Regions from separate parts of the Homo sapiens genome. Here region 2 is linked to region 1. A link means that fine-mapping ties the variant in region 1 to the expression of a gene that starts in the linked region. Tissue or cell type: tibial nerve. Region 1 holds a variant in brackets; the other region holds the start of a gene. All regions are shown on one strand. Distances are between the middles of the regions.

Evidence for each region. PIP is the estimated chance that this variant, and not a neighbour inherited with it, causes the effect.
Region 2: it holds the start of FNDC1-AS1, and the variant in region 1 is fine-mapped to the expression of FNDC1-AS1 in tibial nerve (GTEx, PIP 0.95).

The regions. Positions count from the first base shown.
Region 1 is chr6:159,428,791-159,437,055 of GRCh38, reverse strand. No RefSeq gene overlaps it. Among named protein-coding and RNA genes, the nearest start is that of LINC02529, 49 kb to the right of the region's middle. The variant C/T (reference allele first, on the strand shown) is at 4,188.
Region 2 is chr6:159,165,019-159,173,018 of GRCh38, reverse strand. FNDC1-AS1 (FNDC1 antisense RNA 1) reads left to right here and starts at 3,012. Exons shown (of 4, transcript NR_121668.1): 1 at 3,012-3,207; 2 at 4,258-4,486; 3 at 5,665-5,770; 4 at 6,831-7,120. FNDC1 (fibronectin type III domain containing 1) reads right to left here and starts at 3,619. Exons shown (of 23, transcript NM_032532.3): 1 at 3,314-3,619. The coding sequence starts at 3,422. RefSeq lists an enhancer at 2,265-2,764 and a silencer at 3,571-3,740.

The DNA of each region.
Region 1 (8,265 bases):
CGGGATACTAGGGCCACTCTGCCTTCCATGCTGAAGAAGGAAGATGTCTCTGGTCCCTTTTGTCCCCAATATTTTACACATACAGAAGAATGTAAAGAATTATACGGTGGTTCACATAGCCACATCTAGATACATCGCAGCTGTTGGCCGTCAGCTCTCTTTCCTTTCCACATATCTGTGCAGCTACCCATCCATCCAGCTTATTGTTTTTAGACTTTTCAAAGTCAGCTGCAAACATCAGTGCCTTTGTTCCCACACATGTCATTAACTGGAGTCCAATATTTGTTGATGTTCTTTTGTGTTCCGTCAGCTGTACTGCCTTGAATGTTGATGTTTGGAGTTTTAAGAGAAAGAAGCTCATTCAGCTTCAACCATAACCCCTAAACCCCCGTTCCCACCTCCGTCTCTCCTCAGGAATCAGATGGAGGTGGTTCTGGGCCAGAGACAAATCTAAGGGAAAGAATTGCTGTTTCTCCTGCACGGCAGAGGAGCGGCTGCTGGGTAAGCAGCCCTTTCTGGCTGTCTCTCTCCAGGTGAGGTGAATCATCTCTCTGGAGGCTCCCTGAGCTCTCAGGTAAGCAGATTCTGAGCCCCTTCCCCACCGGCTTCAGACTCGAGGGTTCCCAGTGTCGCTGCAGCAGCTGCTCCTGCTGAGGTGTGCAGGGGAAGGGTTTTGAGAGGCTTCTCATCTGCAGAGCTGGTGTTAACAGGCAGACAAGCATTGCTCAGGATAATGCACAGGGGCTGGAATGGGAAGTGTCTGGCACTCAGAGGTGACCTGGAGGCCTTGAGGTGCACAGTTTGTCATCATCGTAATCAGAGCTGAGATGCACCAAGCACCTCCCAGCGCCAGACCCGGGCTGAGAGCTCACTGCGTGTGCCTAGCGTGCTCTTCATACCATCCTCGCTCTATCATTATCCCCTTTGCACAGATAAGACCTGTTGGTGACCATGATCTTGGCAGCTGTGATAAGAATATGTATAAACCCAGCCAGAGGAGCTGGTTAGGACAGATTTTTCTGGCAGAAAGTGGGGTTGGTGGTGTAAATTGTAGGTTTTCAGGTGCGGTGAAGCCAACAGATGAGACGATTGCCATTGTCACTCAGTTCCCGAGAGGAGGGTCACACTATGATGCTCAGGGCCCCATGCGGAAGCACCAGGGTTGGGCAGGTGGCAGAGAAGCTAGAGGAAACACAGGCAAGAGCCTCGGCCGAGGTTTCCGAGGGAAGAAACTGGGGAGATAGGATGAGCAGGCTTAGGACCGGCTAGTGTGAATAATTTCTGTTGGGTCTGGGGCATAGGGGCTGTTTCCAGTTGTCTGGCACCTGGCCCTGGGGTGATTACGGCAGGGGAATAGAGGCCCAGCATGGCAGAGCCTGCTAGAGGAGACAGGGTCTGCATGTGGGCTCTGGACTGTGTGGTTTGCACATGAAGGGCACACTCATGGGGGAGTCATTTGCTGTCTCTAGGACTTGACTAGCCCTGGGGGGAGCAGTCCCTCCAGTGTCAGTGAGGATCTAGGTGTCAAAATTTCAGAAACACGTGGTTAATACTGTGGGATGGGGCAGGAAGCACCTATCAGGTATATTTGAACATCTTCTCGCAGCCATGCAACCTTCAGCACCCTACGGCACCCACGTGGTTCCTCGTGAACTGTTAATCAGCACATTTCTGGCCATTTGGAGAATCTAAATGTGGAGTCCTTGAATGATACTCCAGAGCTTCATGGGGCCCAAGTGAGACTGTAAGGTCCTTCTTATGGCTCCCAGGGAAGTGGCCACTTTCCACTGCCTTTGGACTAGCCACCAGAGTCACTGTTGCTCTGCCCCTTGGCTTGCCTTGAAACGCTCTCTGAGATACTCGCACTTCTGGTGAGAAGGTGAGTGTGGTGTCCAGGTGCTCACTGTGAAGATGGGCAGGCATTATTTGGAAGAAGTGGAAGAAATGGGAACTTGGAAGTGACTGGGGAGGCCAGAAGAGGGGAGAGGGAAGGGGGTCCCAGGGTGGGAAGTCACTGTTGACAGCTTGAGGGTTCTGTGTCCATTCCAGTGCAACAGGGTGTGTGGGAGCGCCTCTCTTGTGACATTGAACAGGGAACGGGAGAGCATGGACTTGTTCTCTAGGCCTCTGCATTTCTTTGTCCTCTGCAGATAGGGCACAAGCTGTGTTGGCAAAAGCTGGTAAAACACTGCTAACAGGCAGAGAAACCATACATTCAACAATAAGTATATCTAGCAAGGCATTAAAAAATGGAGAGTAGGTTTTTGTGACTAAAAAAGTCTACCTAATGTTAAAATAATAGGCGGTGTTAGTCAAACTGGTAAAAAGAAAAATGAAGCAATCAGGCAAGTCTGCTGCTTGAATTCATACAGACCCAACAATTGACCATTGTTTGAACACTCAATGTCTTAGCTGTTCCTTGTTAAACACACTGTTGGCACAGCAAGCATTTGAGAGAAGAAAGCTTCAGTAATCTAGAGCCACCGCCAAACAGTAGAGCAGTAGAGCAGATTCCTAGGATGATTGAGCATGGGGCTGTTGACAGGCAGGCTGTGGGTGTTGGCGGGTAGAGGGAGGCATAGGCTGAGTGTCTTTCCACGCATTTAACACCCCAGCTCCAGTCTTGGCAGCTACTGTTCCATGAGCAGAATGGAGTTCAATGAAACTGCTTTTGCAAAGACTATGACAGTGAGAAAAATCTGACATAGAAAAATTATGACAATGAAAGAAATCCGACCTGACTCCACCTTGCTTCTAACCTCCAAGCTGTCCTTGTTTGTTTCTGGGCATAGGCCAAGCCAACTGTGGGAGGAATTTAGTTTAACTTTAAAGCAAAGATGATAACAGTCTCTTCTTGAAACTAACTACGTCCTGGCTCAGGGACCAAATATGTCTTTGCAAGACTAACAAATTAGCCACAAGATTAGAATTATGGTTCAGGAGCCTTGTAGCCAGAGGTCACAAGCTTTGTAACTTCCCCATTTGCTCCTATAGGTGACATCACCATTGCAAAATCTAAGATTGGTACTTGAGGTATTTTTCAGACTGCATTCCAATGAACAAGCTGGTGCCACCTGGACTGGTACCCCATACCATGAAACTGGCTCATCTGACCTTGCAATCCCACCCAGGAACTGACAGAGTGTAAGAAGACAGCTATGATTTTATCCCTAACCCAACCAATCAGCATTCCCCATTCCCTAGTCCCCTGCCTTGAGAAACCCTAGCCTCTGAATTCTCAGGGAGACTGATTTGAGTCATAAACTCCCATTTGCCACTTGGCTAGTCCTGTGATAATTAAACTCTTTCTCTACTGTAATACTGCTGTCTCAGAAGATTGGTTTTATCTGTGCAGCAGGCAGGATGAACCCATTGGGCAATTATAATAAAGCAAATGCCAAGGGGCAATTGGCCGCCATCAGTACCATCAGTATGGGCTTATCGGAAGCTGACAGTCACGAAGAGTGAGAGGGTAGGGGGATTTCATTTTAATAAGTTTTCGGATACACTTACTGTATTTAGAAAACAAAGAAAAGTTCACAGCAGGAATACTGTAATTACACTATCTGCCATTCTTGGGGGGATGCAAGGAAATCTTTAAAACAGCAATGCCACAGACACACAGCAGTTTTTTACCTTTTAAATATGAATTTATAATAATAAATCTCATATTTATTTTGGTACATATTTCTCCCAATTAAAAACAATATATAAAGCCTGATCCTAATTAGGAGTAAGTCAATGTCACTTTGACAAAACCACAAAAATATTGATTTATTGACTATTTTTAAAGAAATAAGCCTTATTCTGTACACATTTTATCTGTATTTACTGAATTCTTACTTGAATTTAAAACTTTTATAACAGAATGCAGACAAGAAATAACTTTTGTAATCTCAAAAGTGTTTAATGAACAGATTCTCAGAAATATTTATAATTAGCACCTTTTCTCTTCAGCAACATTAAAGCTAGTTGTTCATCCCCTTAAAATAGTTCCTTGATCCCCCACCTTTGTTAATACCATTAATCGGTTTATAACCAGCACAAAGAAAACTCAGCCTAATGCATCAAGATGGATTCTCCATTGGCAGATCTAAGTTAATGATGTGTAACTTAATGTTTTCTTTTTAAAAAATCAAACACTGTTGTGTTTAGTTTTGGTTGTAAATATAAGTTCTTGGCAAAAT[C/T]TGTCATATGATAAAGTAGTTTTAGAAATCTGTATTAAAAAATTAAAGTAGGTAGAATACAGTGACCTCATCCCTCTGCACCTGTGCTTTGGTCCCCATTCACATAGAAGGAGGGATTGTTCTCTGCCATCTACACCCCTCTTCTCCCATCTATAACAGCCTGGATTACTTTGATATATTTTTTAAAAATTTTTAAAAAGATGGGGTCTCAGTATATTGCCCAGGCTAGTCCTGAACTCCTGGGCTCAAGCGATCCTCCTGCCTCAGCCTCCCAAAATGCTGGGATTACAGGTGTGAGCCACCATGCCCAATCAACCAGGCTTACTTTGGGATATTGTTTTTGGGCTTTTAGCTTAGGGCCACGTTTTGATTGGATTAAGCCCATTAGCATATGTGAAAGATTATATTTTCCAAGGATGACTGTTCTTCTAGAAGTTTCTTCTAGAATCTTGCCCCTCTTCCATCAAGAGATAGAGTCTATGTACCCTACCTTTGAATATGGGTGGGTTTTTGTGACTGTTTCAACCAATAGAGTAGGGCAGAAGAGACATTATGTGATTTCTGAGTTTAGACCACAGAAATGCCAAAAACTTACACCTTATTCTCCTGGGACACTGTATGCAAGCAGTCTCATGGCCCGGAGGCCTCCATATTGTGGGGAAGCCCAAACTGGCACAATTGGAGAGACCACATAGAGAGGCCTCAAGACTGCCTTAAGGAAAAAAAGATGGCCAGGTAGCTCCTAGCACCATCGACTCCTCTTCCCCACCACTGTTCTAGCCCCAACCACCATCTGACTGCAAATCCATGAGGGGCCCCAGGAAAAGTCACCTAGCTGAGCTTACTCAAATTCCTAACCCACAGAAACCATGGGAGATAAGTGATTTGTTATGTTGCAATAGATAACCAGAACAGCATGTCTCATCTCTGTGGCCACAGTGATTGTTGCAGGATAGACACATGACCTAATCCAGTCTAAATCAGTGCAAGTCTTAATATGTTTGCAAGGCATGCTAGACTATAGACATTCTCCTCTCCTCTGGGCTCAGTAAGGTGCTGTAGCCAACTGACTACAGTAAGGGGAGACAGCCTGAGAACCACTCTGGCACACAAAAGAAGAACAGAAAGGGATCATGATGACATCATTGATCCTTGAATCAAATCTTACCCGAAGCTACCATTTGACTTACTCAACACCCATGAAGCATCATTTATAGTCAAAAATGTTCAGAGTCTCAAGTCACTATACAGATACAGAATTCAATCTCTTGTTTGATACCCAAATCTTTCCTATTTTATTCCTATTTATTTCCTATTTTATTCCAGCCAGATGTTTTCAACCTTCAATGACAGACCTCACCACCTGAAGCAGGTGTATTCCAGCCCCAAGCAGCTTTGTTAAGCCAAAATCTGTCTCTCTGCAATAGTTGTCATGAGGTAGAGTGGAAAATATCTAAGAATGCTATGCATAAGAAGAGTATCTAGGTTTCAGCAAGTTTCTTAAAAAATTGCCTGATATTCAAATTGCCAAGATGGAGAAATATGGGCTGAATTTCATTTTAATCTGCTGAATTGACAATTGGTTGAATGCTTTAAAGCTAAAGAGCATTGATTCATTGATCAACCTAAATCAGCATCAGATAGGAGGAGCTGCTAGTCTTTGGTCTCCTGCTCCTGTCCATATGGAAACCAGAGACTTGGATAGGCCTTTGAGATCATGATAAATAAACCCATGAGTGGCACGAGGCTGGGAGGGACAACTATTAACGTTGGATGAGAAATTGAGCTTCCAGAATACTTTGATGCACTTTGCTAAACATTTACTGAATTAGACAAGATAAAATTTAAAAGAGATAAATATAAAATCCTGCTCTTTAGTCTTCTAACACTCAAGTGTATACATATGAGATAAGTCGAAAGTGACTGAGTTCAGAGGTAACACATGAGGAAAGATTTAGGAAATTTACTTGTCAAAAATCCCTGCCAGACAAAAGGATTACGCATCTTTCAAAAAACTTCTTGGGATCTTTGGTTTTATAACAGAAACAAAGTGTTCAAAATAAGGTGGGCAGTGCCTGCTTCCTCATGGGTCGACTCATCCTGGATTGCAGTGCTCACTTTATGGTGCCATGCATTAAGGAGAAATTGACAGGTCAGGGCATACTTAGAAGCAACTGGTGGAGGGTGAGAAAACTTTAAACCCGATCATAAGAGAAATGATAAGAGGATATGGATTCTTGCCTGGAAAGGGCTTGATGCAATATTGGGGCTACTGGAAAGTCTGATAAAGTCACTATTTTATCCTTTTGAGGAAAGCACTCTGTGGAAAGATTCCCAATTGCCTGCCAAGTCAGAACTTTAAAGCGAAAGTTTCTGGAATCTATCTGCCTTAATCTGCAGTTCTTAATCTTTGCAGAATTGGGAAATGCCATTGAGATGCTGCTGGAAGCTTCAGAACCATTCCCCAGAAAAATTACGGAAACTAATAATTTGCAAAACTTTCAGGTTTCTAGATTCCTCTAAGTTCAACAGATCCCTGATGAGAATTCCTGATGAGAATCCCTGCCTGGAAAAATGGGAGACTGAATGGATTAATCTTGCAAATTGTCATAGCATCATAGAGCACACAAACCCTCATTACATTATGACATTATATAACATTCCTTGAAATATCCACTCATTTCCCTCTGCCTATTTTCTTTTCTTCAAGGAAAGCAAGTATTATAAAACTTGTTGTTGTTAACAGTGCAAAGTTTTCTTTTGGAGGTTTAATTTTACCTTCTCACCTTCAGAACAATGCAAAGACCCTTTGAAGTTCCTTTCCATTTTCTTTATGTCTTTCTTTAACACTCTTTTCACTTCCTTCTCTCTTTCTACTCTCTTCTCTCCCATCTCTTCTTCCTCAACAAGGATAGGTAGCAGGGATGAGGCGGCAAAGGGTGAGGGAGTGTGACCAGAGGGAAGTTGGGACCAGCCAGGCGCTCTTCATGTTTCTTCCCTGACTTCTGGCCCTTGCTTCTTCTCTGCATACCACACCCACCCCCAAGAATTCTGCAGATTGATACGTTCAGATAGAAACTTCAGTGCAATAGCCACAGTGACTTCATCAAGAGGAACATTTGAGTATTGAGAGGTGGTGTTTTCTTGTGTTGGTCTTTTTATGACAAGATTCTTAGCTTTGATAAAATAGGCTATGAGTTCAGTGAAGATTATACATTAACTTGAATTGTAACTCAGTTTAATCACAGTTGACCCTTGAACAACATGGGTTTGAACTACACGGGTCCACTTATATGCAGATTTTTTTCCATCTTTCCTGCCACTCTTGAGACAGCAAGACCAACCCCTCCTCTTCCTCAGCCTACTCAACATGAAGAAGACTAAGATGAAGTCCTTGATGATGATCCACTTTTTTCCACTTAATGAATAGTAAATAAAGTTTCTCTTCCTTATGATTTTCTTAATAATATTTTCTTTTCTCTGGCTTACTTTATGGTAAGAATAAAGAATGTAATACATATAACATACAAAATACATGTGAATTGACTGTTTTTGTCATCAGTAAGGCTTCCAGTCAACAATAGACTATTAGTAAAGTTTTTGCAGAGTCAGAAGTTGTACATGGATTTTTGACTGCATGCCTGTAAGCTCTGTGTCGTTCAAGGGTCTACTGCAATTGTGAGTCTTGTTCATAAACAAATGGTTTATGAATTTTTGGTAGATAGAAGCCTCATGCTATATTACCTTTGTGCCTTTCATAGAAAATTGTAACATTGGCCTATTTTACTGTCTCTGTTTTATGCAAACTACTGGTGTGTGCTACTCACATAAAAAATGATAATACCAGATGATTAGCACCTGGATCACTAAATTTTAGTTAATGATATTAGGAATTGGTGGATCACCAGCTAGGTGTGTAACCTTGGGCAGTCCCTAAGCCTCTCCAAGTCTCAGTTTTACATCTGTAAAATGGGAAGCATAACGTATGTTGAAGTTTACTGAGGGTTAAATGAAATGATTCATGTAAAGCACTTAGTCCATATCCAGCACATACTAAAAAAAAAAAGTTAGTTATTGT
Region 2 (8,000 bases), 260 kb after region 1:
GTTGACATACAAATATATTTATATGAAAAGTAACTGTTTCCCAAAACAAAGAGAAATGAGTGAGAAGAGCAGCTTTGTTTCTACATTTTGGCAAATCTTTTTAATAGAATATCTCCGATCTGCTTATGCATTCAATCTATTGCAATATGTCGTTTTGCTTGGAGAAAACCCAGCCTCACACAGATGTGTAGCTGGACAACTATTTCAATAGCCTTTTTGGATAATTTTGAAAAATCTTTGATATTACACCAAAATTCATCAAGTAGCCAATTCTTAGAATCTGAAATCATATGAAGAATTTTTCATATTTTGTTACATTAAAAATCCATTGGGCTATCATGCACTTTGAACAGACCTTTTACCCATGCAAGATTGTTGTAAGGCTATACACTGGTCATTTGGATCTATTGGTTTATTTGGTTATGCAGATCATCCAAATGTTGACACATTTTATGAGATGACATTTACAAATCACATTCATTTATATCACCATTGATCTCACTAGAAAAAAATTTAAATATTGGGAAACTTTCAAGCTTACAGTGGTGGAAACAACTTGGCAAAATTCTGATTTTCACTTGAAAGCTGAAATGTTATCATTGGCAAGCAATAATAGCAGTTATTTTACTAGAAGTAGCAAGTTCCCTTTGTTCATTTTTGAGAAAACATCGGCCAAATACCCAAGTCAGAATAGCTCTAGTTTGTCTGTTGTCATTCTTTGTGGTAAATACCACATTCCATTTTAAAAAACCAGCTAGCTTAATGCATAACACAAACAATCACACCAGTGCTTCCCCCTGGGGTTGCCACTGAACTTGGTCATCAGCAGTAGTAACTTATGTGTCCTTCCCATTTATTTACACTATTAAAAAGACATACACTCAAAGATACAAAGATTTGGTAAAATTAATAATTTTACTGTGGCATCAAGAACATTCTTAATGAAACTGGCAAATTTTTTTTAACTGCAAAGTCCCCCCAAAATTCAAAGACTACTAGTGCATGGTGATGTCCCTGCCTTGATTCTCAGTAAGACACCCGCAGTTTACCCATCAAGCTTTTGCACCCTCAGTGCAAATGTCAACTGTGAAAAAGGAAAATAGCATCTTAGTAATCTTAGTATTACTTTGAAAATAGTTTTGACATGGAAAATTCCCTAAAAGCTTCTTTAAAGAAGAAAATAAAAATCATCCCTAACCATCCTAAGATACCCACTGCAAATATGTGCATGTGTGAGTACATCCACATGTGTTTAGAAAAATGTATCATACCAGACTGGCAAGGCCATCATAATTTTAATGTTTGCATAGTATCCTATTGTAGGGATGAATATGAGTGGAGGAGGGGACACTGCTTGCTTATTTTGTTTTATGTTTAATTGACCCTACACTGAAGGGCTTATCCAGATCTTCAGTGTGTCCTGCTTTAAGCAAAGTCCCTCGGAGCCACTATTATGTGGCCGTGGGTAATTTCCTTACAGAGATTCTGGCCCCAAAAGGGTGGTGAAGGGGAGAGCTTGACACAAGCAGCTCGCTTGGTCCATGCATTAGTTCAACCAGAGAGAGGGAGCAGTCTATCCATGACGTTGCTGTCAAAGGGAGCCCATGAAAGAAGTTATGTACCCCATAATTTCATCCACAGCATGGGGAGCTATCTACAGGTTGCTATGTCTGTTTCTATCCTTCTATTACTTAATTTAAATTTAGTAGATTTCATTCTGAAATGTGCCTGTCCTCCTTTGTCCACCTCTAGTCTGGTCATCATTTGACTGTAGATCCCACGTCAACACAGTAGAGAGAAGGGCTGGGAAGCTGTCCAGCCCCAGCATTCCTCAGCACAGTGATTCACAGAGCAGAAGGCGAAAAAGCAAGAGTGCAGATCGCGGTGGGATTCCAGGAGCTCTCACAAACAACCCCGCTCGGACCCACTCACATGCAACCCACGGGCAGGTGGCAGAGGAATCGGAAAAGCAGAAGGCTGGAATCGCCACAAAGCCAGGGCAGCACTGGTTCCAGTTTCAGATCATTTTCAGAAACAAAAACTCTTCCAGCACTCTGAAAATTTTCACTTAGAAAAACAAAAGCCAGGAGTTGTAGGTGGGGAAGTTGGAAGACTTTATTTAGTTTTATTCCTCTCAAGTACTGTGCAAAGTATTCAGTGAATACTTTCCTAGAGTTCACTAATGGGAAGAAAAAGACCCTACGGCAGGCACTGCCTTTTATGAGAAAGTGGCATTGGCATCAGAATACCTCGCATAAACCTGAGCCAAGCATTGGGATGATGTATCTACCAAAAAGTCACAAAGTAATGTGATCCCCAACTTTTCTTCCTTTACCCCTGAAGTAAGAGAACAATATATACACTAAATAGCATCATAAAACTGGTACCCTCGTTGGAATAGTATCTGACGATCATTGTCTGCTTCTTGGATTTCTACAAACCAATAACCTAAAAGCCAGTTTCAAGTGTAAAAATGCCTGCAAAGGAGGTGGTAACAAGGGCCGCCAAAGGCTTAGGAATGAAAACCTCGCCACAAACTTGTCTCTCTCTGCAGGAAGCTTGCAAGAAATCTGACAGGAGCGCGCTAGCATTTTCTGAAAAGCATTGCTCTCAAAGGAAGCATCCATCCTGGCTGCAGCCTCAGCCATTGGGGAAGGGCGAGTTTCTCTGGAATCAGCTTTCTCATTTCCCTCTCCCTCCTCTCAAGACAAACATTTTCTCCCAGCTTGAACGTTCCCCCCGGGCGCGCGGGCCTCCTGCCGCCTGGAGCCGAGCTGGCACTGGAGCGCTTCTCCTCTGGAGCGCAGAGGCACCCGACGCCCTGCGGCAGCTCGCAGCCTTTCCCCCACGACCTTCTAGAACAGCCCTGCTCTGCCTCCCTCCGGTCTCCCGAGTGCGCCCGTCATCCTGCCTCGCGAGAGGTGAACGCGGAGAAAGTAGGATGACCACCTACGCTCCCGAGAAATTCTGGGCAAAGAAAGGCATTACCCCAGTCCGCACGCTGAAAGTCGCCTTTCTTTTCCTTTTTTCCCCGCTGTGCCTGAATCTCCCGGGACACTTAGACGGCTGGAGCCTCCCGACTCCAAGGCGGGCGACGGCAAAGTTAAACGCCAGCGCGCTGCGGTCCCCGGGCACCGAGGCGTCCCCGCTCCCGCCACCCACACAGGGCGCCAAGTGCCCCGACCCGCGAGTGACGAGGACGCACAGGCTAGTGACACGACCCGTAGCCAGCACTGAGCGGGACGACGGGGCCCGAGCGCAGGAGGGTGCGCGGGGAGCTGAGGAGCGCCGGGGGCCCGGGCGCGGCGCGTACCTGAGGCCGCCGCCGAGGAGGCGACGGGGAGCAGCGCGGCCAAGAGCAGCAGCGCCGCCCAGGACAGCCGGCGCGGCGCGCGCAGGGTCGCCCCGGCCTCGGGGGCCATCGAGAGCCCGGGGTGGGCCGGGGCTGGGTGCTTGCGGCTGGCAGGGGGGCGCTGGCCGGAGTCTGGGGAGTGCCGAGGCGCCGCCGTCGGGTCCCCGCCGCCGTCCGTCTGTTCTGCGCGCTCTGCGCGGTGCCCGCCGCGCCCCTGCCCCGCGGCGATCGCTCCCGGCCGCACACCGGCAGCCGCGCTCCGCCACTGAGGCCGCCGACCTCCCGCCGAGCCTTTTAGCTGCGCTCGGGCGCCCCCTGCCGGTGTGCGGGGCCGGGGCCAGGGCCGGCGGGGGCGACCCGGGCGACAGGGGCGACGGGGGCGGCGGGGCCCGGGCTGGAGGCGGGCGGGGCGCGGGACGAAGGGGCCGGAGCGCCCCGGACTGACTTAGCGGTTCTGAACTTGGGGCGGTCGCTGTGCCGGGCCAAGTGGCTGAGGAAGTTCCTCCCCTCGTCTAACCCTCTCATTTTCTGGCTGGGGAAGTCGCCCATCGCGCCGAGGAGTGCCCTTTGTCCCCTTACAGAAACACCTCTGCGCCCCAAGTGGGGACTCGGGCCGGGACCCCTCACCCGGTCCGCAGCGCTGTAGTTCCTGTGGCTAGCCCAGTCCTTCCACGTCCCTACCCGCACCCGGCGCGCCCACGTCAGGGGTTTTCAGCGTCCTTAGACCCTGCTCCGTCTGGCTGTCATTTCTAGGGCGCGCACGATGCGGGTCGAAAAGGAACCCAGTTTTCAGTGTGCCTTGTTGCCCAGGCCAAGGACTCAGCGGACCTCGCCTCTCCCTTTTCTGTAATTGTAACACTGCCCCAGGTCTCCCTATTCCTCCTTCTCCCTATTCCTCCTTCCAGCCTGGAAGCCTCGCGGCCCTCCAGATGGACTCGGAGCGCCCCTGGAGGCTACAGTGACCTAAGCTCTAGGAAGGCCGGGTCCTGGACGCCGCGTGCTGCTGTCCGCCGCCGACCGGTGTCCTCGCAGAGATAACCTGGCTGAACTCACCGCCCAGCGCTATGTCAGTTCTCCCTCATGACAACCCAAAACTTGACCGGATTTGTGTTCTGCAGAGAGGAAAAAAAAAAGGTAAATGAATTGCAAAGAGATGAAAACCAGAAATACAGTATCTCTTTGAATTTGAGCACCCAGGAAAGGTGTAAACCTACCGCCTTCCTTTCCAGGAAACTCTCCTGCTTCCCAGCAAAGGTTTTTGTTTGTTTGTTTTTCTTTTTCTTTTTGTTTTGAGACAGGGTCTCCCTCTGCCTCTGCCGCCCAGGCTGGAGTGCAGTGGTGCAGTCTTGGCTCACTGCAACCACCATATCCCAGGCTCAAGCCATTCTCCTGCCTCAGCCTCCTAAGTGGCTGGGACTACAGGTTTCAGCCACCATGCCCAGCTCATTTTTGTATGTTTTGTAGAGACAGGGTTTCCCCACGTTGCCCAGGCTGGTCTCCAACTCCTGAGCTCAAGCAATCCGCCCACCTTGGCCTCCCAAAGTGCTGGGATTACAGGCGTGAGCCACCACGCCCAGCCCAAACACACTTTCCTGCATTACTCCCTTATGTTATCATGTTTCCCCACATGCCATTTAATGGAGCTGTGTGGTTTCTGTCTCACCAGCAGCCACCCGGCTCTGCCTATTTTGGGGGAATGGTAGCTCCCTCCCCAACTCCAACCAAGTGACAGGCCCCCTCCTTACTCCCACTCCTTCCCAAAGCCCCACTTCCCCACTGGCTCAGGGCTCTGCAGTGGCCTAGACAGGGTCACTCAGAGTTGGGACTCTTCTAACACGGGCTGGTGGAAAGGTCTCTTTCTCCCATCATTCGTGGATTTGGAAGGATGGTAGCCATGGCAGGCTGAAACACAGCCTTCCTCCCCAAAAAGACATTCCTGTCCTAGTCCCTGACCCTGTGAATGTCACCTTACATGGTTTATTAAAAAGCAATTAAGCATGCTGAGACAGAGAGATTATCGTGGATTATCTGGGTGGGCCCTAATGCAGTCATGTATGTAACTTATAAAACAGAGGAGAGGGAGATTGACGCACACAAGAGAAATCCAGGTGAGGACGGAGGCAGCCATGGGAACGATGCACCCACAGCCCAGGGATGCTGGCAGCCCTCACCAGAGGCTGGAAGAGGCTCCTCCAGAGCCTGTGCTGGACTTCAGGCCAGTGGAACTGATTTCAGACTTCTGGCCTCCAAGACTGAGAGAGCAGATTTCTGTTGTTTAAGCCACCCACCCCGTTTGTAATTACTTCTTACAGCGGCCACCGAACACCAGTGCAGTAGCCAGGATGGGCCTGTGGCTCTGGCTGCAGCCTCCAGGGACACCAGCTGGAGAGAAGGAAGCCACGCATGGAGAGCGGCCAGGTGGGTAGAAAAGAGCCGGGCAGATGCAAGAGTCCCGGGCTCCACCTCACCCCTGCGCTTTCTGAACGCTGGTTCTGGGGACAGCACATTCCCTTTTGCTAACTTGGAATGAGATTTCTATTTTCTATAACCAATGAGTCTTGACTAGTGCACTCCCCCCTGTTCTTAAGAGGACAAGAACCAAGACTTATCTTTATTGCTCATCTGTCACCCAAAAGAGGCCATCACAGAACCAAACACAGTAATATCCAGGAAATGCTGAGGTTAATTGCCATTCATTCATTCATTCAGCAAATACTTATTGTGATCTACTCTGTCCCCAGCACTGCTGTAGACCCCGGGGATTAGCAGTGACTGAAAGCAGATGAATAGCAGGAGTTAAGTTAAAAGCAGAGAAGGGGAGGCAGCACTGAGGACTTTACAGGCTGCAGGAAGGGTTTAGGCTTTCAATCTGAGAGGTGAAGGGCAACACTGGAGAATTCTGATCAGAGGAGACACGGGTAAGCAGGCTCTTACAATCCCAGTGAGGCAAGACGGTGCTTGGACATGATGGACAGCAGTGGGGCACGAGAACCAGTGAGGTTCTGGATGCATCTTAAAGGTATGGTTTGGGAGATTTTCTGACTCATTGGATGTGGAGAAAAAGAGGATTTGCAATATACCGAGTCACACTATTCTCATGCTGCTGGTTAACTCTCCATTGTGACTTCTGTAATTTCAGGATGTCACTCTTTAGTTTCATTGTAATGAACTAATCATATGCCATAATCTCTATATGCACACAGTGAAAGCTCAACAGACATCAGTTTCCTTCCCTGCATCCTCAGGAGATGCATGTGCACTTACCTTCCTCCCCAGAATACTTATTAGAGCAACTTTCTTAGGGGTACATTTCAGAGTGAAGCACAATGCAAAATTACTTCCAATTTTAGAGTTTCAGAACCCTCAACCATGGGCTGTTTGATATTAAATGAAATTACTGACACTTATGAGTTCTGATTCTGATTTCATTACAAATATGAGAGTGTGTGTTTTAATCAAAAGGTATTATTACCTTTAGGCTCAAAATATCTTAAAGAAAATGGAACTCGGAGTCAGTCATCTGTTCTCAACGTGGTCATCTCAAAAATATGAGCACACGGAAGTTTTCTTCCTTCTTGTCAGTTTTGAGTCCAATATCAATACTGTTGTCCTGTGAAAGATTTTAAGATTTAAATGTTTTTTCATGTAATTTCCTGATGTCTTGATTGTTGCTTCTATTTTGTTCATCAAAACCAAACAGAGTGGAGGTTGCTCTGGGGCTGGATGGATGGCCAGTCATTAAAATCAATGCCTTATTAGTCTGCCTTAGTTCTGTGGTCTTTTCTGGCTTTACAGATCAGCTTGTGTTCATATACACTATTTCCTGTTCTAGTTATTTTTAAAATAACTATACATCCAAGGAGTTCAGCACTCCTCATACACATTGTCGTGGCATTCCTATGTGATAGGGTAAATTAAATTGCTATTCTCGTGTTTCATATGGATAAATGGGAAGCAAGTTCAAATGACCTTCCAGTACAGACTCAAGTAGAGCGTTGAAAGTGCGTGTCTCATATTATTCATCTGACATTTAATCTTGTTCAGTCTTCAATTTGGCTCATGTGGCTCTTTAATTCCTTTTTAAGCACCACATTTGAATATATCTGCATATTGTGATCGCCGCAGGACACTACACAATACCCATTACACAATAGTGATATTTTTAAAAGACTACATAGAAGGAGAACAAAAGAGAGTGTGCTCCTACAGCACTTGCTGTGATTGTGGGGAGCTCAATAAATCGGACACAGCAGATCTGGAGGAACACAACAGTCCCCAGGATTCTATGAACAGAGGGAAAAGGGAAAAGAAAATAGAAGCAGGCAAGTCGACACTGCCATCTCAGTTTCGCCTTGACCTGGGAGAAGGGTGATAGAAATAGCTTCTAGCTGGCAATAAAATAAAATAATAAAATAATGCTTTACTTCTTTTCTTGAACAGTACTCATTTCGTTCCGATTCTCACAACAACTTTAGGGGCACTATTCTGATTTTACAGGAGAAAATCAAGGCTCCAAGAAGGCGTGTGGCATGTGCTTGGCCCTTTAACTGGTGCGCCTGGGAGTCCAGTCTGAGCCTCTGACCCCAAGTACACATCTCTCTCCACCACACGTGACTCTCAGAAGGTCCTTCCCTCTCTCCCATTTTCA